Linked DNA regions of Homo sapiens: region 1 is linked to region 2. Evidence: fine-mapped expression QTL. A gene starts in region 2. The other region holds a variant in brackets. All regions are shown on one strand. Distances are from middle to middle.

Evidence for each region. PIP is the estimated chance that this variant, and not a neighbour inherited with it, causes the effect. A credible set is the group of variants that fine-mapping cannot tell apart.
Region 1: its variant is the best candidate, but not a certain one, in a credible set for the expression of PDIA4 in whole blood (TOPMed, PIP 0.86).

What each region holds. Positions count from the first base shown.
Region 1 is chr7:149,004,790-149,007,686 of GRCh38, forward strand. PDIA4 (protein disulfide isomerase family A member 4) reads right to left here. Exons shown (of 10, transcript NM_004911.5): 8 at 1,108-1,264; 9 at 352-585. Among named protein-coding and RNA genes, the nearest start is that of GHET1, 19 kb to the left of the region's middle. The variant T/C (reference allele first, on the strand shown) is at 1,611.
Region 2 is chr7:149,026,664-149,029,560 of GRCh38, forward strand. It overlaps PDIA4 (protein disulfide isomerase family A member 4), which reads right to left and starts at 1,842. Exons shown (of 10, transcript NM_004911.5): 1 at 1,658-1,842. The coding sequence starts at 1,745. RefSeq lists enhancers at 962-1,556, 1,557-2,150 and silencers at 1,475-1,524, 1,615-1,684, 1,755-2,334.

The DNA of each region.
Region 1 (2,897 bases), 22 kb before region 2:
CATCAGCGCTGGAAATGTGCTAAGGCCGCTGAGTGATGCTAGGTAAGCCCTGAGATGGACTCCGAATCTTGCTTTTGCTTTCAAAGTAAACACTGGGAGAACTGCCAAGAAGAAAATAGTAACACTTGCAAATCCTTCTTCTAAGCTATTCTGGTGCCTTGGAGTTTGGGGTCACACCCGACATTTCTCTGGACGAGAAGTCAGAGTCCCTCGGGGGTGAGAGAGGACTGCTGGCTGACTTAAGGGGGTGTCGTGCCCGTGGCCAGAGCACCAGACGCCCCTGGCCTGTCTGGATTCCGCACGAGGAGCACAGCAGCTGATGGGAGACCCCAGCCCCAGCCACGGGCTCACCTTTTTTGAAAGCAGTGACAAACTCGCGGAGGGTGTCAGAGTCAAACTCCTCTGGCTCCATGGCGAACTTCTTCCCACTCTCGTCCAGGATGGCGGCATTGACATCCTCCCCACTCTCGCTGAGCCCCAGGTCCTTCACCTCCCCAGCATAGTCCTCTTCGTCCGCAATGGCAAAGGTGTACTCAGGGAAGTCCTTGGCCACCTCTAGGACTTTGCTCCGCCAAAACTGAGTTGCTGAAAGGGACCAAGGGCCATAAGCCAGGCGGCCACACAGAGCAAGTCCCAGCTCAGACTCTGAGGTCAGGCTTCAGGTCCTGTCGCTAATATTCTGACAATGCTCAAACCCTGGATTTACCTCAATTGGAGGGAAACATGTTTCTGGAAAAGCCCCACTTGTCACGGGGGCCACAGCTGCAAGCCCAACAGGCCCTTAAGACCTGTGCCCAGGTGGCACGGCCACGCCTGCCTGGGGCCAGGGCTGGTCTAGTCCCAGCTCTGCAGCCTCTGAACTCCTCCAAGTCTCAGCTACGTCAACTCTAAGAGGGTTCTGCACCTGAATCTAAGCTCCCATCCTGCTAAAAAGGGAAGCCATCAATTAAAAAATATACCTGAGCCACCAACGTGCAAGGGCCCCAGGCTGGGATTTCTGAGTGAGCCATGTACATACAGCCACACCTCCCCTCAACACTCCACCTTGCCTGAAAGAACGAGTCCCCCCACCCCCCACCCCCGCAGGTCTTGGTGGGGGTCCCTCACCAGCTCTGTAATCAAAGCTGAAGTCCACACTGTAGTAGACGACCACCAGGGGGCGCCTGGTGTAGCGCTTAGCATCGTTTGACACCTTGCGGTGGCCAACCAGGGGCAGGGCGTACTTCAGCACGAAGTCCTTGATGGCCGAGTCCTGGGTGGAGCCCTGCTTCAAAGAGGGAACAGGTGAGGGGGCCCACCATCTCCCCACCATTGTTCTTGAGTACAATGTTTGAGGGACTTTGGGGGAGTGGCGACTTTGAAGGGGATCAGTCTTAGGAGGCAAAACACCCCAGGGCTCGACCCCACTCAAGCACAGCCCAGTCATTCCCTACCGTCTTTTGGGGCTCCTTTCCCTCCAGTGAACCGTAGGTGGCTTCTTGGGAAAAGGCAAACACCTTGGCCCTTTCCTTGGGGGTGTAGGCTCACTAACCCCACAAAGAGACCACTCAAGGTAGGCCTGGCTCTTGGCAGACAGGAAGGGTTATCACGGGCTGGGCTGTGTGGAACTT[T/C]CCACCTTCAGCTTGTGCGGTCTTCACGCAGGAGGTCCTGAGGGCTCACACTTCACAACGACTGGAGTCCCTCACAGACATCGCCCTCCAGGGGTGGGCAGAGCAAGGTCAGCCACCTGCCCAAGGCTGCGCAGCCAGCAAGTGGTGGGTGGGCCTGTGAGCCCAAGGGTTTCCGTGGGGATGGGATACTCAGGGAGGGGTCCTTGTGTGGCACTGAAGGACAAGAGGGCCCCGCTGGTGAGAAGGGAGCAGAAGGCACTCAGGGAGGCAGCAGAGACTGAGGCAGGGCACGAGGCACAAACAGGATCTGGCGTGACAGCACTGGAGGGTGGGATGTGCTGAAAAGGTGGGTAAGGAGGGCCTGGGAGGCCATGCTAAGGCACAGATAATCCAACTATCTCCCAGGTGGCAGGAGGCCGTGGAGTCTTTAACCATGACATGGCGCTGCGTGCACTTCACTCAGCAGGGAAACGCCAGAAGAACTGGGAGCAGCAGCAATGTGCCCAACAGACAAGACTGCATAGATCTTGAAGCGTCTACTGAAAGCTACAGACCCCTTTCCTGGAATATGCACTCACACACAGAGCTGTGTCCGATTCTCGGGATCAATGGCCCCCCAAGCTCATCAGGACCCCTCTTTGGGCCCAGGATCTTATCTCTGGATGGAAGGAAGTGAAGCTGGGGGGAGGGGTCGCAGCAGCCACTATGAGTCCAGGGAAGAGGAGAGTTGCCCTGAGCTTCAAGTTGGCAGAGAAACAGATGGGATGGACACACAGACCTTGAGAAAGAGGGACAGGACTAAAAACTGAGGAAGGAAACAGAGGACATGGGGACCAGAAAGATTCAGGGTGGTTCTCTCCAAGGTACTGCCATGTTCTGGTGCAGGCCCCCGGGATTCCTGTCCTGTCACACCCCCTGCTCCAGGTCCCATGAGAGCCCACAGCCCAAACAGCCAGGGTCCTGACACTATGGGCCAGTAGGACCTGGAAAGGCCCCTTCACCCCAATCTCAGCTCTGCTTCCCACCAGGAGCTGTGGGGTCTGGGGTGGGGGGTAGAGCTCACTTCTCTGCAGCCCAATCTCTGTTAAACCAAAGCTTCAAACTCGACATCTAAGATCCTTCCAAATCTGAGATCTACTCACCGAAGTGCAGGGCCCCTTCTAAAGCACTCAGAAGGCTGAACTGGCCCCAGGTTCCCCTTGGGCTGGGAACTCCCACTGCCCCTCTAGGGCTGAGTGTGTCACACTCTAGGAGGATGAAGTGCAGGGGTGCAGTAATGGAAAGAAA
Region 2 (2,897 bases):
TGGCAAGCACCTACAGTCCCAGCTCCTCGGGAGGCTGAGGCAGGAGGATCCCATGAGCCCAGGAGTTTGAGGCTTAAGTAAGCCATGATCAGGACAGTGCACTCAAGCCTGGGCAACAATGCGTAACCTTATCTAGGAAAAAAAAAAAAAAAAACGGAGCTAGAAGTCCCAGGAGGCCTGCCCTTGGCCATGATGACCCCTGGGATTCCTAGGCTCACCCTAGGAGCAACTGCTTCCCAGGGACTCTTCTGTGTTAAAGACCTCTGACCGGAAGGATAAACTTGCTGGTCCTAACAGCTCCTAAAGCCACTCTCCCAGGCCTCTCAAGAATCCCCCCAAAAACAGAATCACTGGATCAAAACCAAGACAGTGCTATATGCTTTTCCGCTATGTTCCAAAAAGCATCTTCCACCCACACTGGTCCTCAACTTTCACTGTGCCTCCCGAAGTTAATTCTATGTCTCAAGGGAAAACTGACTTAAAACGCAGATTCCGGGGCCCACCCCTGCATTCTGCTTCAGTGTATTTTGGGTATCTGTATTTAAATAAACACTATTTAAACAAACATGATTTGGGTAAAGGTCTCAAGACACAATTTGTAAGCAGTCCCGCTATCGGATTCCTTTCGGCAGGTGTTTTTCTCGCCGAGTGTGGGTTTTTACTTCCTTTTCTATTTGGGCAAAGACTCTTTTTGAATCAGTGACCCACGCAGAAGTTACTCAATCTGTTTGAAAGAGTATAAAGTTCACGATTTCCCTACACACTAACATTATCAAAGAGTGTATATTTATATTAGAACAAACTCAGAAGGTTAAAAAGCTAGTGATTAAAAGTAAGGGCAGAGAGGAAGAAGGTAAAGACCAGTACCTGGATGCCTTATTCTCTAGGAATAACAACTTTTCCTTAATTAGCACTTCCTAATCTTCAGAGTTCTTATGTCTGCAGCTAGCTCACTTCGAAGAAAAATGCAGGGACCATGAAGTAGTTGTTACTATTCCTACTGGAGTACGCGCTTCATGGGCAGGGACCACACTCACAATCTTTTCCTCCCAGAACCCAGTACAGGGACTGGCACACAGTAAATGCTAAATGCAGAAGGAATGGTATCTCTAGTTTCTCAAAGGTGCAAACCAAGCCATCCCTTTCTCCAGAATCTATGGATTAATCATTTCCAAATCTACAGACCACATTTTGAAAAGGAATGCTTGCTGTTCCAAAGAACTCGCACTTGTTTCTTCACGCCCTCGCCCCTTCTCTCCAGTGGCTCTCCCTCTCCCTTCCCACTGCCTGGGCGCGTTCGCCTGGAGTTAGCCTGGACCTGACGAAAATCTGTAAATTAAGGCGAAGGACCCAGCTGCAAAAAAGGCGCTCTGCAGCCCTCTCCCAGCCTCGGGTGACAGGGGTCTTCCAGGGCGTCGGAGCCCAAGAGACCCCGGCCACCTTCCTCTCCCGGGAACCCCAAATCGATCCTGCCACTGCCACAGCCACCGCCCCCGCCCCTTCAACTCCGCCAAGTTTACCCCGGGCTCGGCGCCCATCACTAGTTCTGGAGCTGACCGCGCGGAAGCCCGCCCGCCGGGGTCGCAGGGCCCAGGCCCCCGCACAGCTCTGCAGCCCCCGCAAGCACAGCCCGACCCGCGGCGCGCTTGCCGCTCACCCTCGTCCGGGCCCTCGGCACCCGCCACGGCCAGCAGCTGCACCAGCCCCAAGAGCAGCAGGAGCAGGAAGGCTTTCCGGGGCCTCATGGTAGCGGGGGCGGAGCGCGGCCTCCTAGCGTCGGCGGCCGCTGAGCGCACCGAGAACTCGGGGTCTGGCCGACAGCCCGTCGCTCCTTAGCGACGCGGGGGAGCCGGAAAAACCCACGGAAGTCGTCCCCGGCGATTGGCAGGGGGCGGAGGAAGTCGCGGGCCGGCCAATCCCAGACTGACGCCGGCACGGACCGCGCGCGCCTCGGCCGCGACGAGTCGGCTCCGCCGCCCTAGGCCCTCCCTACTCCTGCGCGCGGCCCTCGGCTGCGCGTTTAAAACTCCGAGCCCTAACGTGAGGTGCCCCCTTCTGATTGGCTGCGCCACAACCACCAATCAGCGGCTGCCACTCGGTTTGCCGGGAGCGCACAGGCCAAGAGGGAGAGCGGGGGAGAACAAAGGCGGCGGGCCGGGCACGGGGAGTGCGGGACCTGGCTACGCCTCGGGGCGCTATTGGCAATCGGTGCCGGGGGCGGGGCAGGAGAGGCGGAGCCTGGGAAATGTGGAGCGGGGCGGGGCTCGGCTCAGCATCCTGCGGCCGAACTTGGCAGTAAGAACACGTGTCGGTACCGGAGCGGTGGGGAGCAGTGGCGAGCAGGGCGGTCCTCGCAACCCGCCGGGGCTCTGGGAAGCTGGAGACCAACGCGGGCGGAGGAGCACGAGCCTGTTTGTTGCTAGAAAGGGGCTCCAAGTCCGCTGCATGTTCGTGGCCTTCTTAATTTCTTTTTCTGCTCGAGCAAATAAAAGTTTCATTTCTCTCCGGAGTATTGAGCTAGAGAGCGGGGAAGAGCATGCAGTAAAGTGAATCCAGACTAGAATCTGGGGAAGCCTCTCTCCAAGGTTGCATCTCGGAGAAACAAGCCATCAGATTCTTGTCTAAACTTTGCCTCGTCTTATTTAGTTTTCTAGTGATTTTCTGCAAAAGGAAATACCAGATAGGCAATCTAGTGGTTTACATAGATCTGAATAAAAGCTTGAGGTTTTCCCTCTTGACCACTTTGGAGAAGAAAACTAGGTTAAGATGACGATTTTTGTATGTCAGAAAAGAAGCCTGTAATGTGCATTAAGTTTGAGACTTTTTTTTAACACCTGGGAGTTTGAGAAGGCAAATAGGGAAAAGAAAAAAAATAGAAACTCAAGTTCAGGAATATT